Regions from separate parts of the Homo sapiens genome. Here all the other regions are linked to region 3. Evidence: fine-mapped expression QTL. A gene starts in region 3. Each other region holds a variant in brackets. All regions are shown on one strand. Distances are from middle to middle.

Region 1 (8,173 bases), 240 kb after region 3:
AAATATTTGGCTTTAGAGTTTTCTGCCCCTACAGGTAACTGTGAATTCAGATGGTGAACTACAGGATTTAGTCAGACCTGAGGTGGAACCCTCACTCACTTACTATGTGACCTGGGGCAAGTCATTTAATCTCTCTAAATCTGTCATATCACCTGTGAAATAGCAATAATAATACCTACTGCCTAAGGCTACTGCAAGAATGAAATGGGATCATGTATATAAATAAAGGCTTGCCTGGGGTTCTTTCTCAGCGGAGATCGCTGCCTGCAATTCTCTTCCTTGCTTCCTTTTGCCCCAGCCAGTGGGAGCAGCCTGGTGGTGGCCCCCAGCCTCAGTTCTTCCACTCACTGTAGGACCTGAGTTATAGTGGAAGCAGAGTGCTTCACATCTCACTCCTGTGGCTCACTCTGCCTTTAGTTTTGAGATGACTGAGCCTCCAAAAGCCTTTGAGAGATACCTCTGCCCTCAGTCTTGGCTGTGGTTTGGAGTTGTCTTGGAGGTCACTTGGAGCTGGGTAACAAGAAAAATGACATTTGACAGAATTGTTTTCTTTGTCAGATGCTGCAGGAATTTTTGGGGGAGTTTGTTGGTCATGATTGCTTAAAAAATCCTTTTTTTAAGTGGGACATTAGTAACAAGATGTTAAAATTGTTAATAATTTTTTTTTTGAGACATGGTTTCGCTGTGTTGCCCAGGATGGAGTGCAGTGGCATGACCACAGCTCACTGCAGCCTCAACCTCCCAGGCTCAAGTGATTCTCCCATCTCAGCCTCCCAAGTAGCTGGAACTAGAGGAGCGTGCCATCATGCCTGGCTAATTTTTAAAATTTTTTTGTAGAAACAGGGTTTTACCATGTTGCCCTGGGTGGTCTAGAACTGCCGGGCTCAAGCAATCCTACTGCCTCCCAAAGTGCTGGGATTACAGGCGTGAGCCACCGCGCCCTGCCCCACATCATGTGGGAAGGGTGCGGTGGCTCACGCCTGTAATCCCAGTACTTCGGGAGGCTGAGGCGGGTGGATCACGAGGTCAGGAGTTTGAGACCAGCCTGACTAACATGGTGAAACCCCATCTCTACTAAAAATACAAAAATTAATCAGGCGTGGTGGTGGGCGCCTGTAATCCCAGCTACTCGGGAGGCTGAGGCAGGAGAGTCGCTTGAACCCGGGAGGCGGAGGTTGCAGTGAGCCGAGGTCATGCCATTGCACTCCAGCCTGGGCAACAAGAGTGAAACTCCATCTCAAAAACAAAAAACAAAAAACAAAAACAATGGTAGCGTATGCTTTGCTGACACAATTATTTTATGTCCCTAGGTTGGTTATGTGAAGTTTTCTGACTCTTCCCTGCTATTTAGGAAGGGCTTCAAAGACCTGAATACTTAGTAGCCAGTGCAGCAGGGTTTCAGGGTCTGGCCTGGGGAGGGGAGGGGAGGGGGAGGGCAGGTTGCAGCTCAAGTGGCTTTAGAGATGCTGAGCCTCTCCTTCTGTCCTGCCCAGGACGCAATGAGCCCCTGAAGAAAGAGCGGCTTAAGTGGAAGAGCGACTACCCCATGACTGACGGGCAGCTGCGGAGCAAACGGGATGAGTTCTGGGACACAGCGCCTGCCTTCGAGGGCCGCAAGGAGATCTGGGATGCCCTCAAGGCTGCCGCCTATGCTGCTGAAGCCAACGACCACGAGCTGGCCCAGGCCATCCTGGATGGAGCCAGCATCACCCTGCCTCATGGTAAGTGGGCAGGGCCAGGGCTTTATCCCCGCTGGAGCTAGGGGGTCACCAGCACAGTTTGAGGGTGTTGAGGAGTGTGGAGCGGTGGGGCAGGTGGTTACTCACGTATTCATTCATTCAAGCACCCCTTACTGAGCATGGACCAGGAGTGGGTACACAAAGAAAAAGAGACACAGTCTATGCTTGCCTAATGACATGACAGAAAGACAACAAACCTGCAAAGCAGTGTCACAAATGCACTTTGGGACCCCAGAACATCCAAGGCACTGACCTTTTTATTTTATTTTTTTTTTTGAGATGGAGTCTTACTTGCTCTGTTGGCTAGGCTGAGGCTCAGTGGTGGGATCTCGGTTCACTGCATCCTTCACCTCCTGAGTTCAAGCAATTCTCCTGCCTCAGCCTCCTGAGTAGCTGGGATTACAGGCATGTGCCACCATGCCTGGCTAATTTTCGTATTTTTAGTAGAGACGGGGTTTCACCATGTTGGCCAGGCTGGTCTCAAACTCCTAAGCTCCAGTGATCCACTGGCCTCAGCCTCCCAAAGGCACTGACCTTTTATTGGGTTGTTATGTGCTGGACACCGAACTAGAAACTTCCACTGCATTAGCTCACGTAAGTTCATAGCAGTCTTATGGGGCCATGTAAAGCAGAGGGTGACAGTGGAGCCCTAGAATCACAGACTTGAGTTTCTTTTTTTTTGAGACGGAGTTTCCCTCTTGTTGCCCAGGCTGGAATGCAGTGGAGCGATCTCGGCTCACCGCAACCTGCGCCGCCTGGGTTCAAGTGATTCTCCTGTCTCAGCCTCCTGAGTAGCTGGGATTACAGGCATGCGCCATCACGCCCAGCTAATTTTGTATTTTTAGTAGAGACAGGGTTTCTCCATGTTGGTCAGGCTGGTCTCAAACTTCCAACTGCAGGTGATCCGCCCGCCTTGGCCTCCCGAAGTGCTGGGATTACAGGCGTGAGCCACTGCGCCTGGCCACAGACCTGGGTTTCAGTCTGAATGTTTCCCTTTCCTAACTGTCTTGGCTTTAGCAAGGAGCTTCTCGAATTTAGAGCCTGACTGCCTTACGACTGTAAAGGGGAGATGATTATTAGGATTCAGTAAGATACACATAACATCATTTAGTCCAGTCCCAGCACTTAGTAGGTGCTCAAGAGACAATAAACATATTTCTCCATGCATTACGTTTTGCCAGTAAGGACACTAAGGCCCATGGAGAGCAGAGCTGTGCTATTTCATTCATCCCTGTAACCCCAGCACCTGGCACATGTGAAGAAGTGAAAAATAATATGCCAGGATGAACAAGCCAGTACCTGGTGGAGCTGGGATGCCAGCTCAGGTCTTCCTGACTCCAGCCCTGTACACCTGGTCATCAGGCTGTCCTAGGGAGATCTGACTGTGGGGTGGCCATGGCAGGTGTATTAGTCTGCTCAGGCTCCTGTAACAAAATACCACATGCTGGGTGACTTAATCAAGAGACATTTATTTTCCACAGTTCTGGAGGCTGGGAAATCCGGCATCATGGTGC[T/C]GGCTGGTTCAGGTTTTGGTGAGGACTCTGTTGCTGGCTTGCAGGTGTCCGTCTTCTTGCTGTGTCCTCACATGGGGAGCGAGTGGAGAGTGAGATAGTGCTCTAGTGTCTCTACAAGAACTGTAAGCCAGGGCAGTGGAGCACACCTGTAGTCTCAGCTGCTCGGGAGGCTGAGGTGGGAGGATTGCATGAGCCCAGGAGTTCGAGACTAGCCTAGGCAACATAGGGAGATCTTGTCTCAAAAGAAAAAAAAAAAAAGGACCATTTTTCCCATCAAGGGGTCAGAAGGTCAGGGCCCCACGCTATGACCTCATTTAACTTTATTTATTTCTGTATAGGCCCCATGTCCAAATACAGTCACATTGGGGGTTAGAGTTTCACCATATGAATTTGGGGGGACCCAAACATTTAATCCATGATAGTGGATCCCCAAGCTGACTCTGACAGCCCTGCCTCTCCTACAGGCACCCTCTGTGAATGCTACGATGAGCTGGGCAATCGCTACCAGCTGCCCATCTACTGCCTGTCACCGCCGGTGAACCTGCTGCTGGAGCACACGGAGGAGGAGAGCCTGGAGCCCCCCGAGCCTCCACCCAGCGTGCGCCGTGAGTTCCCGCTGAAGGTGCGCCTGTCCACGGGCAAGGACGTGAGGCTCAGCGCCAGCCTGCCCGACACAGTGGGGCAGCTCAAGAGGCAGCTGCACGCCCAGGAGGGCATCGAGCCATCGTGGCAGCGGTGGTTCTTCTCCGGGAAGCTGCTCACAGACCGCACACGGCTCCAGGAGACCAAGATCCAGAAAGATTTTGTCATCCAGGTCATCATCAACCAGCCCCCACCACCCCAGGACTGATGGGCCCACGGACCCCTGGGAAGAGGCCCCGCCTGGAGCACTAGGCCCCCACCCTGCTGCTGCCTTCCAGTGCTGTCATTTTCTTCAGGGGCCCTCCCCTCGGTGTGGCTGGTGGGTGAGCCGTGAAGGGACCCTGCCTTTCAGGGCACTACGCGCCACCAGTTCCCGGTACCCAGGGAGCAGGCAGCCACACACGGGCCTTGCAACCTTGTCAGAGAAAAGGCGAACAGGGCCCTCACCCTGCCTGTCTCCCGAAGCAGGTTCGAGCCACAAGGGCCAACCAGGAGGCCCCTGGAGCCCAGATCTGTCATCTGGTGCTGCCAGCTGTGCTCACTCTGGTTTTCTGCTCAGGGTCTGAAGCAGCTGCTGTCTCCCTCCTCTGCCCCCATCCCCTGGCTCTCCCCTGGGCACAGTGCCACTCCCTTGGAAGGGAGGGAACCACCCGTGAGCCCCAGGGCTTGGGAAGCCTGAGGCGGGCCTCTGCCTCTCCCTGCCCCCAGCACAATTGGCAGAGATGAGGCGGGTGGTGGACAGCTGGGCTGTCGTGGCAGGGTCTGCACAGGGCCATGTCCTGGCTGTAACCCAGGCAGTGGGAGGTCTGCAGCCTGGTCATGGCCTCCACAGCAGGTCCCTGTGGACAGACATATCTGCATATTTATCAATAAAGCCTTTTGCTCCTTCTCGCTTGCCTGGCATTTGACTGAATTCTCCTGCAGCTCTGTGGGGCCCCTGGAGCTGTTCTGGTATGGGAACAGGTGGATGCCTGGCCTCCCCAGCTGCTCTGGGCATGCAATCTCCAGCAGAGTGAGCCTGGAACTGCCAGTCTTCTGGGCCCTGATCCCAGCTCCCCTGGTGTCCTCATGAGTCCTCAGGAAAAGCCACTCTTTGCTTTTCTTTAAAGCAGAGCCATGCTGCCTGCCCTGCCTCCTCCATCAGTTGCTGGGAGGATTAAGCAGGAAGACAGATGTGAAAGTGCTTGCAAGGCGAAGACAGCACCTCAGGAAGGTGGTCTGCTCCTGCAGCAAGAGGGGCTAACTTCCGGCCCTGGAGACGCTGTAGCCATCGTGATGTTAAAGCAAAATCTCTGACAGATTTAGATCGTGTGTCAGAGGTTTGTGTCAGCTTCCCAGCAAGGGAACCAGAAAGGAAAAGGAACCGGTTCCTCATGCTTCCTAGGGGAATGCATGCATATCTGAAGAGAAGGGAATCTTATATAAGGCTGTTTAGCTAAGGGCAGCCACCAGCCAGGTGAGCCTTACAGAAGCACAGGGCTGGGTGTCTGCAGTTCCCTAGCAGATTAACCTGGGTCACAGTGACTCAGAGCTCCAGCATGCGAGTTCCAGGTGTGGAACTGAGCAAGTACAGATCTGCTTTTGCTCCACTTGGGAGTATTTTTCCTTCTTAGTGAGCATGGGCAGCCTCCTGGCCAGGGAAGTCTGGCACTGTCTGGGCCTGACAGGGAAACCCTGGGAGGGTAGAAGGATCCAGAGTAGCTGCTGTTCCTCGCTAGCTGGGCTTAGTGCTTTCCGGAGACCCCTTTCTTGAAGCAAGACTCTGTAAGCCCTGCAGAGGTCCCCTGAGCACTTACCAAGAGAGGAGACAGATTGGATAAGGTTTGTTCATGACTAAAAGTCACCCAGCCAAATGCAGTGATGCTTAACGGGGAAGCATGTGGGACCCCGGAGAGCCGAAGGCCAGCGTGAGCTGTGATCAGAGAGGGAGACAGCTGCCCTTCCTGCTACCACGGCCCTGGCCTGGACAAGTAGAGTGTGACCCTCCTCACAGCCAGCAGGGCCTGTCTGCAGGACAGCCTGGGAGTACAGAACTGTCCTGGGTCCCCCGTTTGGTTTTCAGGCCCTCTTCCTGGAGCTGGCTGAGCAGGGTTTCCAGGCATCCAGCAGGTGGCACTGTCATCTGGGCTGGAGCATGCAGCCAGCAGTTCCCTTTTGCAACTCAGTTGCCTTGGCTAAGGCCCAACCAGTCCCAAGTGCTCAGGACAGAGGCTGGACGGGCTCCTTCCTGCACCCCTGCTCTTGGGACACAGTGCCCTCCGGCTCTAATAGGCCAGGAGTTGGGGGGGCAACTGGCTCTGCTCCCTGGCCCTGGCTCCCCCTGCTCCCTGGGGCTGCCCGAGGTGAAGGTGACAGGTGGGGGAGGCAGGTGGAGAATTGGGCCAGTGAGCTCATGGCAAAGGCGCCCAGCTGGGCAGGGGTGGGTGCTCTGGCCTATAAAGCCCCCGAGGCCCTGTGGCCTGCAGAGGCGGTTATGGACGGCACCATGGAGGACTCCGAGGCGGTGCAGAGGGCCACAGCGCTCATCGAGCAGCGGCTGGCACAGGAGGAGGAGAATGAGGTGCGAGCAGGGGTGGAGGTGCCCAAGGGGGTCTGAGGAGATCCAGTTCTGCTGTCAAGGGGAGGGAGATCCTGTCTGCTACACCTGTGGTGGGGAGGGGGGCAGATGTCCCCAGGGGCCCAGTTGGGCCTCATTCCTGTCCCAGGGTATTACTGGCAGGGGGTATTGCTGGCAGCAGAAGACTGAGGCTTCAGCCTTCAAAATTAAGTCAGTGAGATGGGGAGCTGGGCTGGGCTTCCTAAGACTGCTCACCCTCCTGGGCCTTGAGAGACAGTGGGCTGTACAAAGCAGACAGCTGGGTGCTGCCTGGGACTTTCAGGAATGTGTGGCCCTGTGATGCCCCAGTGACTGAGTGGGAGGCTGGGGCAGGGGAAACTCCAGTATTTGGCCAGTGAAGAAGAGAGTGAGGAAGGGATGCTGGGAAATGAAGCATGGATTTTGCCAGCCTGCTGGCCACCCTTGGGGAGTCCTTTGGCGTGTGGTGTTCTGGGCAATTGCATTTTCTCTGGGATAAGGAAGTGGAGCGGTGGCAGGGGGTGCTGGCTTGTCCTATTCTGCATTTTTTTTTTTGAGACGGGGTCTCCCTCTGTTGCCCAGGCTGGAGTGCAATGCATGATCTTGACTCACTGCAACCTCCGCCTCCTGGGTTCAAGCGATTCTCCTGCCTCAGCCTCCCGAGTAGCTGGGATTACAGGCATGCACCACCATGCCTGGCTAATTTTTGTATTTTTAGTAGAGATGGGGTTTCACTCTGTTGGTCAGGCTGGTCTCAAACTCCTGGCCTCAGATGATCCACCCACCTTGGCCTCCCAAAGTACTGGGATTACAGGTATGAGCCACCATGCCCGGCCCCTACTCTTCACTTTATTTAAACTAATACTTCATCTAGTGTTGGCTCTGCCAAGAGCCCAGAGCTGTAGAAATGGGTGGACCAATAAGGGTCAGACCCTGCCTTCTTTTTACCAACCCAGGATTCATTTTAGCCCATTTGTTGGTTTCATAGTCAACTAAGAAACAAGGCAAAGGGAAGAAATGACTAAATAGAGGTGTGAATCAGAAGTGGAGGAACACAAGGGGCTCATGAATTGTTCTGAGGGCCTTCAAGGACTCCTCTGTGGACAGGGCCAGGTGCAGTGGCTCAAGCCTGTAATCCCAGCATTTTGAGATCTGAGATCCGAGGTGGGCAGATCACTTGAAGTCAAGAGTTCGAGACTCACCTGGCCAACATGGTGAAATCCTGTCTCTACTAAAAATACAATTAGCCAGGAATGGTGTCAGGCACCTGTAATCCCAGCTACTCAGGAGGCTGAGGCAGGAGAATTGCTTGAACCTGGGAGGCGGAGGTTGCAGTAAGCCGAGATCGCACCACTGCACTTCAGCCTGGGTGACAGAGGGAGACTCCGTCTCAAAAAAAAAAAAAAGGGGACTCCTCTGTGGACAGGAGGATACCTGAGCTGGGCCTTCAAGGGGACTCAGTGGAGTCCAGGATGGTGGAGGGTATTCCAGCCTCAGGAAATGCAGGAGCTGAAGTTTCCATGAGTGAAAGCGTGGCTGTCTTGATAAAGTCTGGTAGTAGGGGCTAAGGCTGGAAAGACACAAGCCAGAGAGGGCCATGTAAAAGATATTTATTCTGTGGGCAGTGAGGAGCCACTAAATGTTATTGAGTGAGGGAGATTGGTGTCATCTGACCTATTTTAGGAAAGCAGCTCTGATGGCCC
Region 2 (8,165 bases), 29 kb after region 3:
ACAGGACCATGAGTCAGGCAAAGCCAGGGCAGCCCCCTCCAGAAAGGCAATGGGCACCCTCTCTGAGAGAGCTGCAAGGGAGCAGATGAGTGAAGGCCAGGAACTTGGCTCTGTCCCCTATCAAACCAGGACAAAGACCTTCCTCGAGGAGGGACTGTCTGGTGATTTGACAGTTAGATCACTGGGCTCCTCAGACTGACCCAGAAGCCTTACAGCTTACCAGAGACCTCTGGGAACACATATATTCTCCGCTAACACACTAACAAAAAATAACCCATATTCTCCAAAGTCAGACAGAATTCAGCCAGCCAGCCAGCCAGGTTCAACTCCCAGCTCTGCCACTTACAGCTCCAACCTCAGGCAAGCCTCTTAACCTCATCTGTAAGAGAAGCCATTTTAGGCTTTCCCTTCTTATCTCATTTGGGTTTCACACAAACACTGAGATAGCAGGTAGCTATTTAACCCATTGTAACAGATGTGAACACTGTGGCTTAGAGAGATCAAGATCCTTGCCCAAGGTCAGCTGTCTTCTCCAGCCTGGACTTCAACATTCAACGACAAGTTGTGGATGGAATCCTACCATGCCAGCTCAGGAGGACTCTCTGAGACGACCAACACGAACCACCCCCATTCCTCATGTTTTTGCAGATGAGAAACTAGAAGCTCAGAGACAGACAGTGTAACCAGGCCAAGGTCAAACAGCTAAGCAGAGGTTGGGCAAGCAGCCCTGACCCCAGGTCTCTGCCTCATCAATTGGCAGGTACTCCTGCCTCAGCATCACTCCATCCCAGGGCACAGTAGGTGAGCTGGCCCTGGCTCATGGGTGCCACAGGCGGAAGAGCCATGAGGTTGTGCAGCTGCGTTATGATGCTCTAGGGCTGAGGACACACCAGCTACTGGAATCAGAGGCTTCCCACAGGAGCCCCTGGACCTCCAGATGCAAAGCAAGGGCTCTGCTGCAAGGGCTTGGGGGCAGGGGTCCTGCAAGGCTACCCTGGGAGGAAGGAAGCAGAGGTGAAGCCACCTTGGCACTTCTAGCAGCTGCTCTAGGAGGGCAACAGCTGGTGGGCCCAGAGATAGAAATAGAGGGGAACCCTCTGGCCAGACCCAATACCAACCTTCCCAGTTCCCAGCCCTGGCACCGGCCAAGTGGCTTCTCTAAACCCAGCCTGACTCGGTTGGTGCTCTTAGGGTGACCAAGAGAGGCAAGCAGCTCGCAGAAGGGACAGACTCAAGCCTCTTGGGAGGCCTGGGCGGGTGGGAAGGAGCTGTGGCTCAGGGCTCCTCAGAAGGCTGGTGGTTCCATGCACAGATCTCCTAACCCATAGGCTCTCTCACACCCCCAGGGCCCCTTAGACTCCAGGCCCATCTTGAGTGTCATATCAGCCAACCTCTGTTGGTGCCAAGTGAGTGCAACCAGGCTGTGCACCCTCATGGCCCTGCCACCCCTTCCTGTGACTCCCCTCCCTAATGCAGGTGACAGGGATCCATGTGTCCCAGGAGAGAGGAGTGGAAGCCTCACCTTGGTACTGAGGGGGTATCTCCAGCTCCTCCTCCTCAGCCTCTTTCTGGTGCTTGAGCTTCTGGTGCTTTTTCTATAGAGAGAGAATAGGTGGGTAGTGAGTGAACCAGGGGATGTGCCCACCCTCGGGAATGCCAACAGTAACAGCAGAGTACCCTGCATCAAGCAGGAGAGGCCCTCTGCTAAGCACCCCACCTCTCACTTACAGATGGGGAAACTAAGGCCCAGAGAGGGCAAGGAACTGTCCAAGATCACAAAGCCAGGCAGTGCAGAAGAGAAGCTCTGGCCATGTCCTGACTGCCGGGCTGGTGGCGGCCGTTCCTGCTCTTCCTTTCCACTCTGGGCCCCACCCAGGCCTGCAATTGCCCAGAGGGCTTCTGACATCAGCTTACCCAGCCTTCCTAATGGGGAAAATGAGGTCCCTGGCCTCTTCAGAGAGAATAGCTTTACCAGTTCTTTGCTTCACACAAACCCCACCCCACTCTCCCTATTAATCACTCACTTACTGATCCCCTACTAAGTGCCAGGCCCTGGGGACACAGGGCACAAGATCTAGTTCCTGTGCTCCACGGGCTCTCAGGCGGGTGGGAGACCCCTGCTCAAGCCAGTCATCACTGATCCTCAACAATGCTACCATCCCAGCAGGTATGATCATGGACAGTAAGACACGTCAGCTCGTCAATTATATTCAACAGGAAGTGACAGAGCACCTACTGTGCGCCTGGCACTGTGTTAGGCAGTCCAAGGGAAGGAGGGAGAGCCCGACAGCGGCCCCAGCCCATCAGATGTGAGCCTAGAACCAACAACCAGGCCAGGCAGAGGCGTGCTGTGCAGGGAGGGCAGGCAAACAGAGGTGGCCCCAGCTGGCAAGGCTGGTCCCTGCACTGTGGTCTGTGCCACTGTGCCCCAGAAACCTCTAGAAACTGCAGATTCCCAGGGCTCCAGCTACCCAGGGGATCCAGAGGCCAACCAGGGGAAAGGTATGCCAGGTAAAGGGATCGGCCTGGGCAGAGCGAACAGGCTGCAGCACACACAGGGTGTGCCTGGGAGACGGGGGACTCCAGGTCCACTGGCCGAAGCCCAGCTGAGTGGGCTCCTAGTGGAGAAACAGGAACCGGGAGGAAGCTGACTCCGACTGCAATGTAGGGGATGATGGCTGAGCTGGCTCTTGGTTCAGCTGGTGCTTGGCCAACAGCCCAGCCTGCTGGCCCTGAATGGAGGCAGCTACTTGAACCCCAGCACTTCATGCTTCCACAATGGTTGGCCGAGGAGTTAGAACTTGGCCGGGCCCGGTGGCTCACGCCTGTAATCCTGGCACTTTGGGAGGCTGAGGTGGGTGGATCACGAGGTCAGGAGTTCGAGACCAGCCTGACCAACATGATGAAACCCCATCTCCACTAAAAATACAAAAATTAGCTGGGCGTGGTAGCATGCACCTGTAATCCCAGCTACTCAGGAGGCTGAGGCAGGAGAATCACTTGAACCTGGGAGGGGGAGGTTGCAGTGAGCCGAGATTGCGCCACTACACTCCAGCCTGGCGAAAAAGTGAGACTTCATCTCAAAAAAAAAAAAAAAAAAAGAGTTAGAACTAAGTGCCATGCAAGAAACCCTCTGGGGGTCTCAGTGGCAGGAGCCAGCCACAGAATGCAACTGCCCTGGGGCCCTCTCAGTGCCTGGAGACAAGGCATCTGCTCAGTCCCGCTCTGCCCGGGGCAGTGGGGGACATCCTTAGAAAGCCGTGGTCGGTTCTCCCCGGCCAGGGAGAGGAGTAGGCTGCCGAGGATCTGCAAAGCCACATGTGAAGATGTGCTTAAGGAACCCAGGAGGCTTTGAATGGAAAAAGATTTCCAGGAAAAGTGAATAATCAAGTCACAA[T/C]GGCTTACTTTGCATCACTAAGTGGCAAGCACTGTACACAGAAACAAAGACTTGAGCCCAGGCAGTCTGGGCCCAGACACACGTTTGGCAGACGACTGCCATCACCTGGAGAGGGAGACTAGACTGGCCTGAGGGTGGCCTCTCGGAGGGGCCCATGTCAGACCAAGCAGAGGAAGGACTCCCAGTAGGTGAAGCTGTCCCACAGGAGTGGTTGCCTGGGCGCAGAGAGGGGCAGGAGGGTTTTCAGCAGAAGCCCCACTGCTTTTCCTCAAGGGCATCCCAGAGGGGCTTCCCGCATCAGAGGCTGCTCAGGTCCTCAGCTACTCTCTGACCCAAGACTCTGGATATGTACTCAGCTCTTCAAACAGAATTCTGCGCTGTCACAATGCTCTAATAACAAACTCCTCCTCGGGCCACACTGGGCAGATGGACACTTGGCAAGGCATATGGGCAGACATTGACAAACATGACGCCAATGAAAACGGGGATGTGGGGGAAGTCTGTAACACTTCAGGCACTATGCTAATGCACTTTACACGCCCAATCTTACCAAACTGTCCCAATGACTCCACCAGGTGGTCTATTTATAACCCCACTTTACAGATCAGGAATTGAGGCTTTAAAAGGTTAGGCTGAAGCCAAGATGGGACCCCAGAGTCTGCCGCTTCCCCACCGATATCACTATACCCTGATGTAGGCTCTGTCACCTACGGGTGGTGCCCAGGAAGGCTGGATGGGCTGGGGCATAGTCTGGAAGGGCAGAGAGGGAAGAAACTGCTCCAGAATGGAAATGTTCCACTGAGCTTGAGACTGACAGGTGTTGGGTGATGGGTTGGGCCCACTTCACCCTTGTTGGTTCAGGTGGGGCAGCTGAGAGGCTGTTTCCATCCTGGCAGGCAGCACTGCCAGGTCAACAGGGGTAATGGTGGCAAAGAGGTTGAATTCCTGGGCTTAGGAGACTGGAAAACCAGGGTTCAAATTCCTGGTTTGCACAGACTGAGTCCTGTGACCCTGGGCAGGCTACTTACCTCTGTACGCTCCTCTGGTCACTGGGACAACGGAGTCCCTATCTTCGTGAGGCTATGTGGGGCCCTCAGCACAGTGCTGGGCACACAGCCATGCTCCCCTACGGTGGATGCCCCCACCCCATGCAGGAGCACACAGGGAAGCTGCTGCCCTTGCCCCTGCATAGCACATGCCCTCGCTAGAGAGACAAGGGTCTCTGCCTTCTTTCTCCTTTAACTAGACAACCATCACCCTGTCCTGCCTGGCACCCACAACCTTCTGGACCGCCTGCTATGCACACCTGTGAGGATGCACCGAGCATTCCAGAAACAGGGCAGTTCCAATGTCTACGTGTGGTGGGGGTGAGAAGCTGTGGAGCCCAGGCTTAGGTCTGAAGCCCTAGCCCCCCATCTGCAGGAACTACTCACATTCCTGATGATCACATCTTCCATTGGGTCAGCCATCTCTTCATCTTCGCCTGGAGCCAAAAAAGAGAGGCCCATGAGCGCTGTGGGAGCTCCTCAAAACCTACCCTTTCCTTCTGCCCCCTCCTGGCTCACCAGGCTGCGGGGCCACCAACTCCGGCCCCAGAAAATTGCCTTCCTCAGACCAATATCATCCTTCTGCTAGAAGAGATGAGACCCCTGAGCACTGCCCCTTTCTCCTTCCCACCCTAGGCCCTAGGGATAACGGCCCCTCAAAGAAGCGGTGATCCTACTTTTGAGGTGAATATGGCTTCGTTTGAAACTTTTCTTTTCCCACTCACCCACCCTTCATCTGTTTGAGATTTGAAGAAAGCCCCAGGTTTCCGGGGGAGTCAGGCGCTCCTGCAGCCCCATACACACCCCCACTGTGCCAGGAAGGCTTCATTCTCCTGTTTGAAATCTCTGCCCCATGCAGTATGTGCTGGGCTCCATGTGGGAATATAAAGTATGAAACTGACCAATTGGAGGGAAGAGAAACTCAGGCAAAGTCAATCAACAACCAAAAGACGATAGAGAGCACGTGACCGGCCATGTGTGGTGGCTCACACCTGTAATCCCAGCACTCTGGGAGGCCGAGGAGGGAGGATCACCTGAGGTCAGGAGTTCAAGACCAGTCTGCAACATGGCAAAACCCCATCACTACTAAAAATACAAAAATTAGCTGGGCATGGTGGCGCACGCCTGTAGTCCCCGATACTTGGGAGACTGAGGCAGGAGAATCACATAAACTCAGGACATGGAGACTGCAGTGAGTCGAGATCGAGCCACTGCACTCCAGCCTGAGTGACAGAGCGAGACTCTATCTCCAAAGAAAGCACATGACCAAGGGCTGAAGACTGGGTTTCCTCTGGGCTTGGCAGGAGTTCTGGGGGAATCAGGCCTAAAGGCTGAGGTGCCCAGGAAGGGCTACAAAAGGAGCTTTGAGCTGAATCCTGAAGAGCAGGGGGGTTTGGAAAGGCAGAGAGAGAGGGGAGGGGTCCTGACAGCCTCAGGAATGCCTGGGCACCAAGGGGGACAGGAGATGGGAAAGTATACAGGGGCGAGAGAGGAGCAGAGAAGACACTAGACACGGAAATATAACAGGCACATGTACACCAAGTACATACGCTGTCCCCATTACACCGATTCATCTTCATTCCAACCCGGAAAAGTGGGTATTAGGATTGTATGATATCCACTCTGAAGCAAGGAAACGGAGCTAAGGAGAGGCTGACCGAGCGGCTGCAGTCGTGTGGCTGGTGAGTTGGGTGCATGTGGAGCAGTGAGGCTCCAGTTAGGAGGTGCAGTGAGACAAGGGCCCAGAGCTCGCAGCACTGGGAACCAAACAAAGGGATGACAGGTGTGTTCTTGAAGACCTAGGTGTTTTTTTTTTTTTTTTTTTGAGACAGAGTTTCGCTCTGTCACCCAGGCTGGAGAGCAGTGGCACAATCTTGGCTCACTGCAAGCTCTGCCTCCTGGGTCCACGCCATTCTCCTGCCTCAGCCTCCCGAGTAGCTGGGACTACAGGCGCCCGCGACCACGCCCAGCTAATTTTTTGTGTTTTCAGTAGAGATGGGTTTTAACCGTGTTAGCCAGAATGGTCTTGATCTCCTGACCTCCTGATCTGCGCGCCTTGGCCTCCCAAAGTGCTAGGATTACAGGCGTGAGCCACCACGCCTGGCGAAGACCTAAGTGTTTCTTAGCTAATGGCTGGATATGTGGAGAGGGGCCAGGAAAGACTAAAGAGAGCTCCGAGATGCCACACCGGAGGGACTCCCGGGCAATGTGAGACATTGGGATTGGGAAGTTGGGAGGGTTTCAGCCTCTGGCTCTTTCTGCCTCTAAATCATCTTCAGGGCCTTAGCCAAGTTTGCATTAAAAAAAAAAAAAAAAGAGGAAGGAAGAAAAGGAGAAAGGAAGAGGAGGGGGAGGAGGAGGAGAAAAACAGAAGAGACTAACAGCGTATCACACACAGTAAGGGGAAGTACCATTTCCGATAGTTTCCTTTAAGTTAAATATGTATTGTATAAATGGCTCGGTTACAACATAAAAAGATTTCTTAATGTTTCTCAAAAAAAGTTTGAGAAACTCAAAAAGTTTGAGGAAGCTGCCGAGAGAAGAGTTTCTCTGGTCTGTTTTTAGCCACGCTTCCTCAGCAAGTGATCACCGAAGGAATAAGTGAACACGGTGAATGAATGGACAAGCGCGTTGGGCCCACCTTTGGCACCTTCCTCTTCCTCCATCTTGTTGCCGTCTGCCTCCTCCCTTATGATCAGCCGGCCATCGGCGCTCACCTTGAAGCCGTGGTCCTTCTTCCTGCCCCGGCCTGGCCCTGGCTGCGTGGCTGGGGTGTAGAGTTTGGCATGAGGAGGTGGAAGGCCAGTCCCATGCTACTCACCCTCATCATGACCAACAAGCCCGGCTCAGGGATCCCAAACGGGCGCCTCTCAGCCCTGTCCATGGGCCTGCCATGGATGCCACCCCCTACCCACCACCTGAGAACCTGGCACCATGGCAAGTCTGTTTTCTGAGTGCACTGGCCAGCCCTGTGCTTACCCAGGACTCGTTGGGCCACCTTGGGATCCAGGAAGTTGAGGGGCTCGTCCCCACCGCCCTCTTTCAGCCATGCCCGGCTCCTCTGTCGTGCCAGCTTCCGCTGCTCCTTGCCTCGGCTTCTTTCCTCCTCCTCATTGTCCTCCTCGTCCTCTGAGTCAGCTAAAATCTCCTCAATGCTAAGGACAAAAAGCCCCCAGTCAGAGTGCTCCCAGGAGAGGCGGGGGTCAGCGGGTATTGCCTGGGCAGGCCCTTGGGTTGGGGGGACACCGGGTCCCATGGCCCTAACATGGTCTCACCTGTCACCTTTGCCCTGGGCGGGCTCCTCCTCCTCCTCCTCCTCTTCTTCCTCCTCCACGGCAGCCTGGCTCAGGGCTCGGTGCCTCTTGGCCCGGGCCTCAGCTTTCCGGATGTTGACCAGGACTCTGTGGTACTCCTCGGGCAACAGCCTTTTCACCAGCTCAAATCTGGAGGTGGCAAGGAAGGGCTGGTGAGAGGCACTGGCCAGACAGCACGACCCAGATGTAGTGTCCCTGGTAGGACTGGAAATCCTCGGCCCCTCGCTTGCCCTACCCCCGCCCCTGCTCAGTGCACAGACCCAAACTTGCGGATGAACTTGGTGAACAGGTTCCGAAGCTTCATGCGGAAGTGCCGCCGCATGTCATCTGAAAGCTTCCCAATGGCTTCCATCTGCCGGACAGAGCACCAGGCTTTCAGGGAGGCGAGCCTTCCATGCTGCGCCCCCT
Region 3 (8,173 bases):
GTGTAGGCTCAGACAGGGGGCAAGAGGACCAACTTAAGTGCCCTGAGTTCTGATTCTGCTCTACCACCAATAATTCCTTTCACCATTGTAAAAAGCAAAGTAGGGCCAGGCACGGTGGCTCACACCTGTAATCCCAGCACTTTGGGAGGCCAAGACAGGTGGATCACTTGAGGTTAGCAATTTGAGACCAGCCAGGGCAACACGGTGAAACCTCATCTCTGCTAAAAATACAAAAGTTAGCTGGGAGTGGTGGCGGGCACCTGTAATCCCAGCTACTTGGGAGGCTGAGGCAGGAGAATTGCTTGAACCCAGGAGGTGGAGGCTGCAGTGAGCCAAGATCATGCCACTGCACTCCAGCCTGGGGACAGAGCAAGACCACGTCTTAAAAAAAAAAAAATGCCAGGTGCCGTGGCTCATGCCTGTAATTCCAGCACTTTGGGAGGTCAAGGTAGGCGGATCACAAGGTCAGATCGAGACCATCCTGGCCAACATGGTAAAACCCCGTCTCTACTAAATATACAAAAATTAGCTGGGTGTGGTGGCATGCTCCTGTAGTCCCAGTTACTCGGGAGGCTGAGGCAGGAGAATCACTTGAACCCAGGAGAGGGAGGCTGCAGTGAGCTGAGATCACACCACTGCACTCTAGCCAGGCGACAGAGCGAGATTCCATCTCAAAAAAAAAAAAATCTTGTAAAAGGTGCCAACCAGGGTGCCTGCCCTAACAGGGATCAGCTCCATCTCTACCTAGGAAGTAGAGAAACACTCAGATCTTGTAGGTCTTTTCCCATTGTCTGTAGTCCTTATCTATAAGATGGAAAAATAGTGCCTACCTCGTGGCACATAAAGCCATGTGGTAGTACCAAGAATGAGCAGCTATCACTTTTTGAGCAATGAAGTCTCCCCTTCAAGTCCTCATTTAACCCTTCCAACTCCCCTATTAAGTACTATTGTTTTACAAATCACAAGGGAAAAACTCAGAGTCTTGACTTGCCCACCATGACACAGCTGGTGAGCAGAAAGGGCTGAGGCAACTGAGCATCAGCCTTCCTCTGCAGCCCCAGCCTCGGGAGTGTGCTGAGCAGGAGAGGTTCCCCGGGGGCTGGGTTAGTAGAGCTGGGCAAGGAAGGGGCAAGGCAGGGGCCAGGTGTGGTGGCTCACGCCTTTAATCCCAGCACCTTGGGAGGCCGAGGAGGGCAGATCACTTGAGCTCGAGTTCAAGACCAGCCTGGGCAACACAGTGAGAACCCATCTCTACTAAAAATATAAAAAATTAGCCTGGCATGGTGGTATGAGCCTGTAGTCCCAGCTACTCAGGAGGTTGAGGTGAGAGGACTGTTTGAGCCCAGGAGGTTGAGGCTGCAGTGAGCCAAGATCGTGCCACTGCACTCCAACCTGGGTTACAGAGTAAGACACCATCTCAAAATAATAAAATTAAATTAAAAAGAGAAAAGGGCAAGGCAGGAACTAGGAAGGGATTCAGCAAGGGCTCTATGCCTGGGAAGACAGGGCAGAGAGAGAATGAGGAGAGGAGGAGGGCTACTTCGGTCAAATCTAACCCCTGAGTGCTCAAACCAAGCCATTTTACAACTACCAAATACACTGCTGTAAAACCCTGTTTTTCTCTCCCAAGGCCATAGCTCAAGACTAGGTCAGTCTCAAAGGGGAAAGCAGGCTGGCTTCGCCTGTGCCCTCCCCATTTTGCACAAAAACGTCCAGATGAAAACCCACCTCCCTCCACCACAGCACCTCTTTGCTCTCCAGCCCAGAAAGCATTTCTAGAATACATTGTCTTTCCACAAAGGGAGTGGAAGCCCATCTTGCAGCTTCTAAAAACCTGGACTCAATTTTCTGATCTTGTGGAATAAAAACTTAGAAGCACTCAAGTCCTGTGGCTCTACTAGGATTCTGTGCCCATCAGCATTGGCCCAAACCATTTGTCCAGGTCCCCCCCCCCCGGTTTAGCCCAAGTGCCCTCTTTATTAAGGACATCCCCATATGCTTTTCTGCCCCTCTCCCACCTTCCACCAAAATGCCAAACCGTGCTCCAAAACAAAAGCCAAATTTATTCAGCAGACATTTTAATTATGAAATCCTATAAATCAGGACCACCACAATTTCAGACACTCCGTTGCGAAGTGTACATCAATAGCTACATCTGGAGGATGAACAAGCCATTGAATCTTTTAAAAATTGGTTTAGCTACCTTAAAGTTTGGGGGTGGCACCTTACAAAAGCGCCGTCAAGTTTCATACAGCCAGCGGCTTCTTCTCTGGGAGAGTCACATTTTAAAACCGGTTTCAGACACAAAAGAAGGGCTGGCACGGGAGGAGGAAATAAATTGTGAGGGTGAGGAGCCGCCGAGGCCGAGGCCCATGACTCCATGGAGGGCCAGAAGAGAGCAGAAAAACGTCCAGGGTCTCTCATGCATTCCTATAGACACCAGAAAGGGTGGAATAAGAAAGCTCAGCTGGGAGGACAAGAAAGAGACTCAAGAGATCGTTTATGACTGTTTCTGAGAAAGCTCCTGGCATGGCCATGAGTGGCCTTCCGGGAGTCCTGTAAAAAGGAAAGCACAGAAAACAGGAAAGAACTCTCCCTACACGTCCCTCTCTGCCTGTTTGTGTCCTCGGGAGACTCCAAGCGGTGGTAAAGCACCAACAGGGCTCTTCTTGGAGCAAGAGAAAGAAAAGACTCCGGGGTGAGTAAGCTCTCCCAGGAACCCCACAGCAAACCGTGACCTTGAACACAGATGGCAAGGTCAAGTCATTTACAAGTCCACATTCAAATCCAAATCTCCCACCTGCAAAATTCTTCACCTCTCTCCAGTCCCTTAATTGGAGTTCACATCTCCCACCTTCACCAGCCACCGAATCGGTGGGAAAAAGGGGCAATGCCAAGCCACCCACCACCAAACTTTTACATTCTTCTCCCCTCTGGAATTTCTTTGCACAGCAATTGTAGCACCACTTACTAAGCTCCTCCACCAGAAAATAAGAAAATGTATGCGTGTCGTTAGTTTTCAAGTATTGTTATAAAGCCATCGCGATTCCTACCCCTGAGCCCTCCTTAAACAATCCAAGCTCACGACGCCCCCAAGGGCTAAGTGAGGTACAAGTCGATGCAAGTAGCTGCCATAGTTCTCCCAGTTTATCCCAGGTCCTTGGGCTTGGATGGCCCGGGAAATTCTCATGCCCCACGGAAGCACCCTGGCGCATACATTTCTCCACGCTTAAGTTTTCTCCGACGGCCTCGCCGCGGCTGGTAACTTCTCTGGTTGAGATCTCTCCCCACGCGCCTCCCCGCAGCCAAAGTGGTCGCTCCCAGGCTGGCGACGTCGGCTTCAGCTCAGAGTTAGTAGGAACTGGACGCTGTTGGGTCTACGCAGCGGCCTCCACTTCCTCCTCCAGGAGGCCTGCGTCAGAGCAAGGAGCCTGAGGGCTGCAGGGCAATGCGGTCAGGTCCGCTGCGGCCTCCCCCGGGCCCAGGGGCGCTTGCGGGGCCCGTGGCTGCAACCGCGGCGACGGCTCGTTGGAGTCTCCGCACGGCTTCCTTGATGAGGTTTCCCGAGAGCACGAGCTGCTGGAGGAGCCGATGCGGGTCGTCGTCGCCGGCGCGTGCCCCGGCTTGGGTCCATCGGCGCTGCTGCAAGCGGCGGGAGGTGACCGCGTCCCTGAGCCATCCTCGCCGGCACGGCCCCGGCAGCGCGCTGGGGCCTGCGGCGACCTCCGCCACGCAGTAGGGCGCAGCGCGTCCGCGCACGCGGCCGCGGTCCCCTAGGGCGCAGCGCAGGGCCCCAGAGGGCGCCGGGCCCACCGTCTCAGCCGAAGCGGGCGGCAGCAGCAGCGGCACCGCCGGGGGCCGGGCCTTGTCCGCCGGCACCGCCGCAGCCAGGGGCCCCGGGGCCCGCAGCGGCACCCCCGGGGGCGCGCACGGCGAGGCCGGGCTGTCCTGCGCCGCGTCCAGCTGCAGCGTCTCGCCGATCTGGGCCACCAGCCGGTCCACCTCGCCCGAGCTGCCCAGCGTCACCGACTGCTGCAGCAGGAGGAAGCTGTCGTCCTCCTCTTCCTCCCCCTCCGCCTCCTCGCCGGCTTCCTCTTCCTCCTCCCTCCGGCACGGCATGGCCCCCCGTCCTGGCACCCGGAGCTGTGCGGGCTTCGCTGGGGGCTTGGTTGCCCGCGGGCGCGGAGCTGCGGGCGAAGCCGGAGCAGGGGCGGACGCGGAAGCCGGAGCCCGCCAGGCACTCGAGCCACGCGCCTGCAGCCGCTGGAGCCGGAATCCTGCCGGCTCGGGTTGATTTGTAAACAATGGGTGACGTCGCGCCGGGCCCTACCACCGCACCGGGGCGGGGGTGACGCGCGAGCAGGCACGGGGGCAAAGGGCGGCGCGGGCGGTGACCGAAGCCGTCCCGCGCCTGTGTTCGTTGTCCCTCCAGGAGGGGGTCCGGGGCGTGGGGACTGATTTCCGACCTCCCGGGCCCAACGAGCCGTGCTGAAACGTGGCGCCTCGGAGGAGGCTGAGGTTGGTTTCTCCCACGCACGGACACACCCACACCCACTCCGGGCCCGCCTCCTGGGCCGCGGCCTCCCTCCCCACGTGTCGGCCGCGCCTAAGCCCGCCCGACTCCCGCCCCGCGCACCCGCAGTTCCCGGCCCTGGTCGTGGGGGAGGGGCGGGCCGCCGCGGGTCCGGCTTCGACGAGGCGGGGCGGGGAAAGGCGGAGGGAATTGGGAGTGAAGAGGCGGCACGTTACTTATTTACTTATTTATTATTTAGAAAAGGTCTCTGTCGCCCAGGCTGAAGTATAGTGGCGCGAACACGGCTGACTGCAGCCTCGAACTCTGGCTTAAGTAATCATCCCACTTTAAGCCTCCGGAGCAGCTGGGACCACAGGCGCGGCCACCACGCCTGGCTAATTAAAAAAATTTTTTTTGTAGAGACGGTGGTGGGGGGGGGGGGTCTCACTATATTGCCCAGGCTGGTCTCGAACTCTTGGGCTCAAGGAGTCCTCGCTCCTCGGCCTCCGAAAGTGTTGGGGTTACTGGCGTCAGCCGCCGCGCCCGGCCTAAGAGGGGACGCTTTGAAGCAGAGCAGAATCGCTCTGAGGTGAGGTCCCAGAGGCTTTCCCTCCCGCAGTCTTCAAGCCCCCGGACATATCATGAGAATAGGACTCACCGCCGCTCGGCTAAAGAAGGGTCTTTTTTTTTTTTTAAGGTTCAAATAGAAATATAGGGGATTGGCCAGGAGCGGTGGGTGGCTCATGCCTGTGATCCCAACACTTTGGGAGGCCGAGGCGGGCGGATCACCTGAGGTCAGGAGTTCCAGACCAGTCTGGCCAACATGGTGAAACCCCATCTCTGCTAAAAATACAAAAATTAGCCGGGCGTGGTGGCGGGCGCCTGTAATCCCAGCTACTCGGGAGACTGAGGCAGGAGAATGGTTTGAACCCTGGAGGCGGAGGTTGCAGTGAGCCGAGATCACGCCACTGCACTCCAGCCTGGGCAACAAAGCGAGACTCCGTCTCAAAAAAAAAAAGAAAAATATAAGGGATGGAAAAAATCTCTCATGGTTCACATTTAAATTTTTTTCCTTTTTAGCCTTTGTTCTATGAAAGTGTAGTATACAAACACATGCATACAGTGTTACACACTTTTCCACTTTGCCTTACATCATAAACGTTTTTCGTGTTATTGCATGCACTTTGAAAACATTTTAATGATTACATAAGTTTCCATCAAGTGCCTATGTTTTTAACATTTGCCTAATTTCACCATCGTTAAGTGTGTAACTAACATTTTTGTGCGCGACACTTTAAGATATTGATGATTCTTTCCTTAGGGCATATTCCCAGGAGTGGAATTTTAAGTCACAGTAGTTGGGTATTTTAAGGTTTACTGATAAATGTTCAGGAAGTGTCTTTCCAAGAGTTAGGTAAATGTACTCTACCATCATTAATGCTTGAGCATACATCATTACACCTTCACTAGTATTTGAGTATTATTGAATTTTTTTTTTTTTGCGGATTATATAGGGAAATTTTCTCCCTTCAGTTTGCATATCTTTGATTTCAGTTAGGTAGAGCAGTTTTCTAAATGTTTGTTAACAAACTGTACTTCCTTTCTTATGAATTGTCTATTTCCTAATAAGATTTTCCTAGGGAGTGTTTCTTACGTATTTGCATGACTCCTTTACATACCAAATGTTAACCCTTTTCATATTTTGCCGCAAATACGTCTCCAGGCTTTTGTTGGCTCTGTACAGTCATTTTTTCCCCCACTAAAACCAAATTTTCATGTAGGCAAATTTTAAAATCTCTTTGAAATTTCTAACACGATGCTAAATTTGGAGTCTCCTTGCTGCCAGAAAGTTATTAAATATTCCATTCTATTTTCTTTAGATTTTTCAAATGCCTTGATTTTTTTTTCAAATCCATCTGGGATTAATGTTGGTCTTTGTTTCAAGGAGATGACATGAAATTAATTTTTTCCTGGAGAGCTTGCCAGCCAAAGGTGTGTTTCTTCACTAGGACAGAGGTGTGAGGGTAGCATAAACACAAGCTGTCTGGTGAGTTTCCAGTTGCTGGTTAAGCTGGTGGTTGTGAGGAGTGGGTGGGGCTGGGAATGTTTTGATCAGTCTGTTGTGTGAAGTCAAAAGAACCCAGAACAGGTTGTACAAAGACCTAGATCCAAGTCTCATTCCTGCCACATCCTGGGTGTGGGACTCCAGGCAAATCAGTTTACAAGTGTTTTCACTTGTAAATAGGAGAAATAATCCCTGCCTGGCCTCCCTCTGAGGATTGTTTTCAGGATCAAATAAGATAATGGGAACGGGTGTTGTCAGGCATTACACAAATGTAGGATTAGGTCCAGCGGTTTACTAACAGAGGTCTGGCTCAATTCCAGCGAGTCCCCCCTGGGGAGCATTTAACATAATAATGTTGAAGATCCCCCCCATGCAGCCCACTAGGTGAAACGTACCCTGAGGGTATTACTTCTGTGCACTTGCCAGGTTTCTTAAATTCTGCCTCAGGTCTACCCTGACCTGGGATTGTGTAGGGCTTTACTGAAGTCAGCCCGGAGGCTCCCATGCCCCACAGTGAGTCTCCGCAACTAGTTCTGCAGGTTTGAGTGATGGAGACTTTCCCAGTGGGCAGCCTCCCACCTCCATCTCCCGAGGGCTGTTCACACACTTTACTGATGAGGACTGGAAGCCATTCCCCCCGGAGAGACTGATTCTCATTTTCATTCCGATGGTACTTACTGGAGAATTTCGAGAGGAATGAAAATTAGGGGAGGGCTTACGGATTTCAGTAGAGTTAAAATGGTAATGTTTTCCTCCTTTCTGTATGATGATGCCTGGCTGTAAGTAGAGAAAAGCAGTTTTATGCTCCATTGATTTTAAACATTAATGGGTCTGGTTTAACTATTGTCTCTCACCCAGCATCCCTGGAAGTTGTTTTTGTTTTCCTGTCAGGGTAATTCCAATAGTGTTCTTCGTACTATAGGAAATGGAGCTTTGAGATGGCATTCTTTAAAAAAAAAAAATCTTCCCTTTGTAATGTTGCTTTTGTGTGAAGATTGCTATGTAAATATGCTGGGACTTGGATATTATACTATTCATTACAGAGATGAATTCATTACAGAAGACCAGCTCCATTTTCTGGGGGCACCTCTCTGGAGAGCTCTGAGAGAGAGAAGTGCTGTGCTGGACCAGTGGGAGGCAGAGAAATGCCCTGGATTAGGAAGCAAAATACAAGATGCTAGAAAGACTCAGATGCAATTAAAAGTAATGAGACGGTATCAAAAAGGGAAGCGATGAGAACTTGTGAGCCCAGCACACTGGCTCCCTGCCTGGAAAGACACACTCTCGGACAGCATTCACAATCGCCCAGGGAAGAACAGAATTCAAGGGTTTTCTGCATTCACTTAGATTGCGTTGAAATTCTCTGCAAGGAGTTTGCTTTCCACACAGACCTTGTTTCAAGTTACCTGCCCTCAGAGACATTAGCTACAGTACAGTGGGATGAACACTAGGCTTGGGAATACCACCTGGATGGGGTCACTTTATCCTTCCGTGCCTCTGATTCCTCATCTGTAAAATGGGGGACGGTCCCTTCTTTATGAAATGGTTATATTACATGAGAATAATATGTATGGGAAGACTCATCATGTGGACCC

Alleles and levels. Positions count from the first base shown, and alleles are read on the strand shown. Sizes are in standard deviations (SD) of each study's normalised expression. Not every link is listed here.
With allele T in place of C in region 1, the expression in visceral fat of the gene that starts at base 4,276 in region 3 is higher (moderate effect, 0.62 SD a copy in GTEx).

What was found.
Region 1: its variant is fine-mapped to the expression of FRAT2 in visceral fat (GTEx, PIP 0.98).
Region 2: its variant is fine-mapped to the expression of FRAT2 in whole blood (INTERVAL, PIP above 0.99).

Annotation. Positions count from the first base shown.
Region 1 is chr10:97,566,421-97,574,593 of GRCh38, forward strand. UBTD1 (ubiquitin domain containing 1) reads left to right here. Exons shown (of 3, transcript NM_024954.5): 2 at 1,494-1,721; 3 at 3,718-4,786. The coding sequence ends at 4,103. ANKRD2 (ankyrin repeat domain 2) reads left to right here and starts at 6,359. Exons shown (of 9, transcript NM_001346793.2): 1 at 6,359-6,455. The coding sequence starts at 6,369. RefSeq lists a silencer at 351-440. The variant T/C (reference allele first, on the strand shown) is at 3,254.
Region 2 is chr10:97,359,024-97,367,188 of GRCh38, forward strand. It overlaps RRP12 (ribosomal RNA processing 12 homolog), which reads right to left. Exons shown (of 34, transcript NM_015179.4): 26 at 8,018-8,109; 27 at 7,719-7,886; 28 at 7,423-7,598; 29 at 7,085-7,210; 30 at 4,831-4,880; 31 at 1,523-1,595. Among named protein-coding and RNA genes, the nearest start is that of FRAT2, 28 kb to the left of the region's middle. The variant T/C (reference allele first, on the strand shown) is at 3,398.
Region 3 is chr10:97,330,454-97,338,626 of GRCh38, forward strand. It overlaps FRAT2 (FRAT regulator of Wnt signaling pathway 2), which reads right to left and starts at 4,276. Exons shown (of 1, transcript NM_012083.3): 1 at 2,044-4,276. The coding sequence starts at 4,119. The coding sequence ends at 3,418. It overlaps LOC105378448 (a long non-coding RNA gene), which reads left to right and starts at 4,393. Exons shown (of 2, transcript NR_188201.1): 1 at 4,393-4,518. RefSeq lists enhancers at 2,987-3,894, 6,432-6,950 and silencers at 3,445-3,494, 3,505-3,634, 3,975-4,124, 4,215-4,364, 4,495-4,844.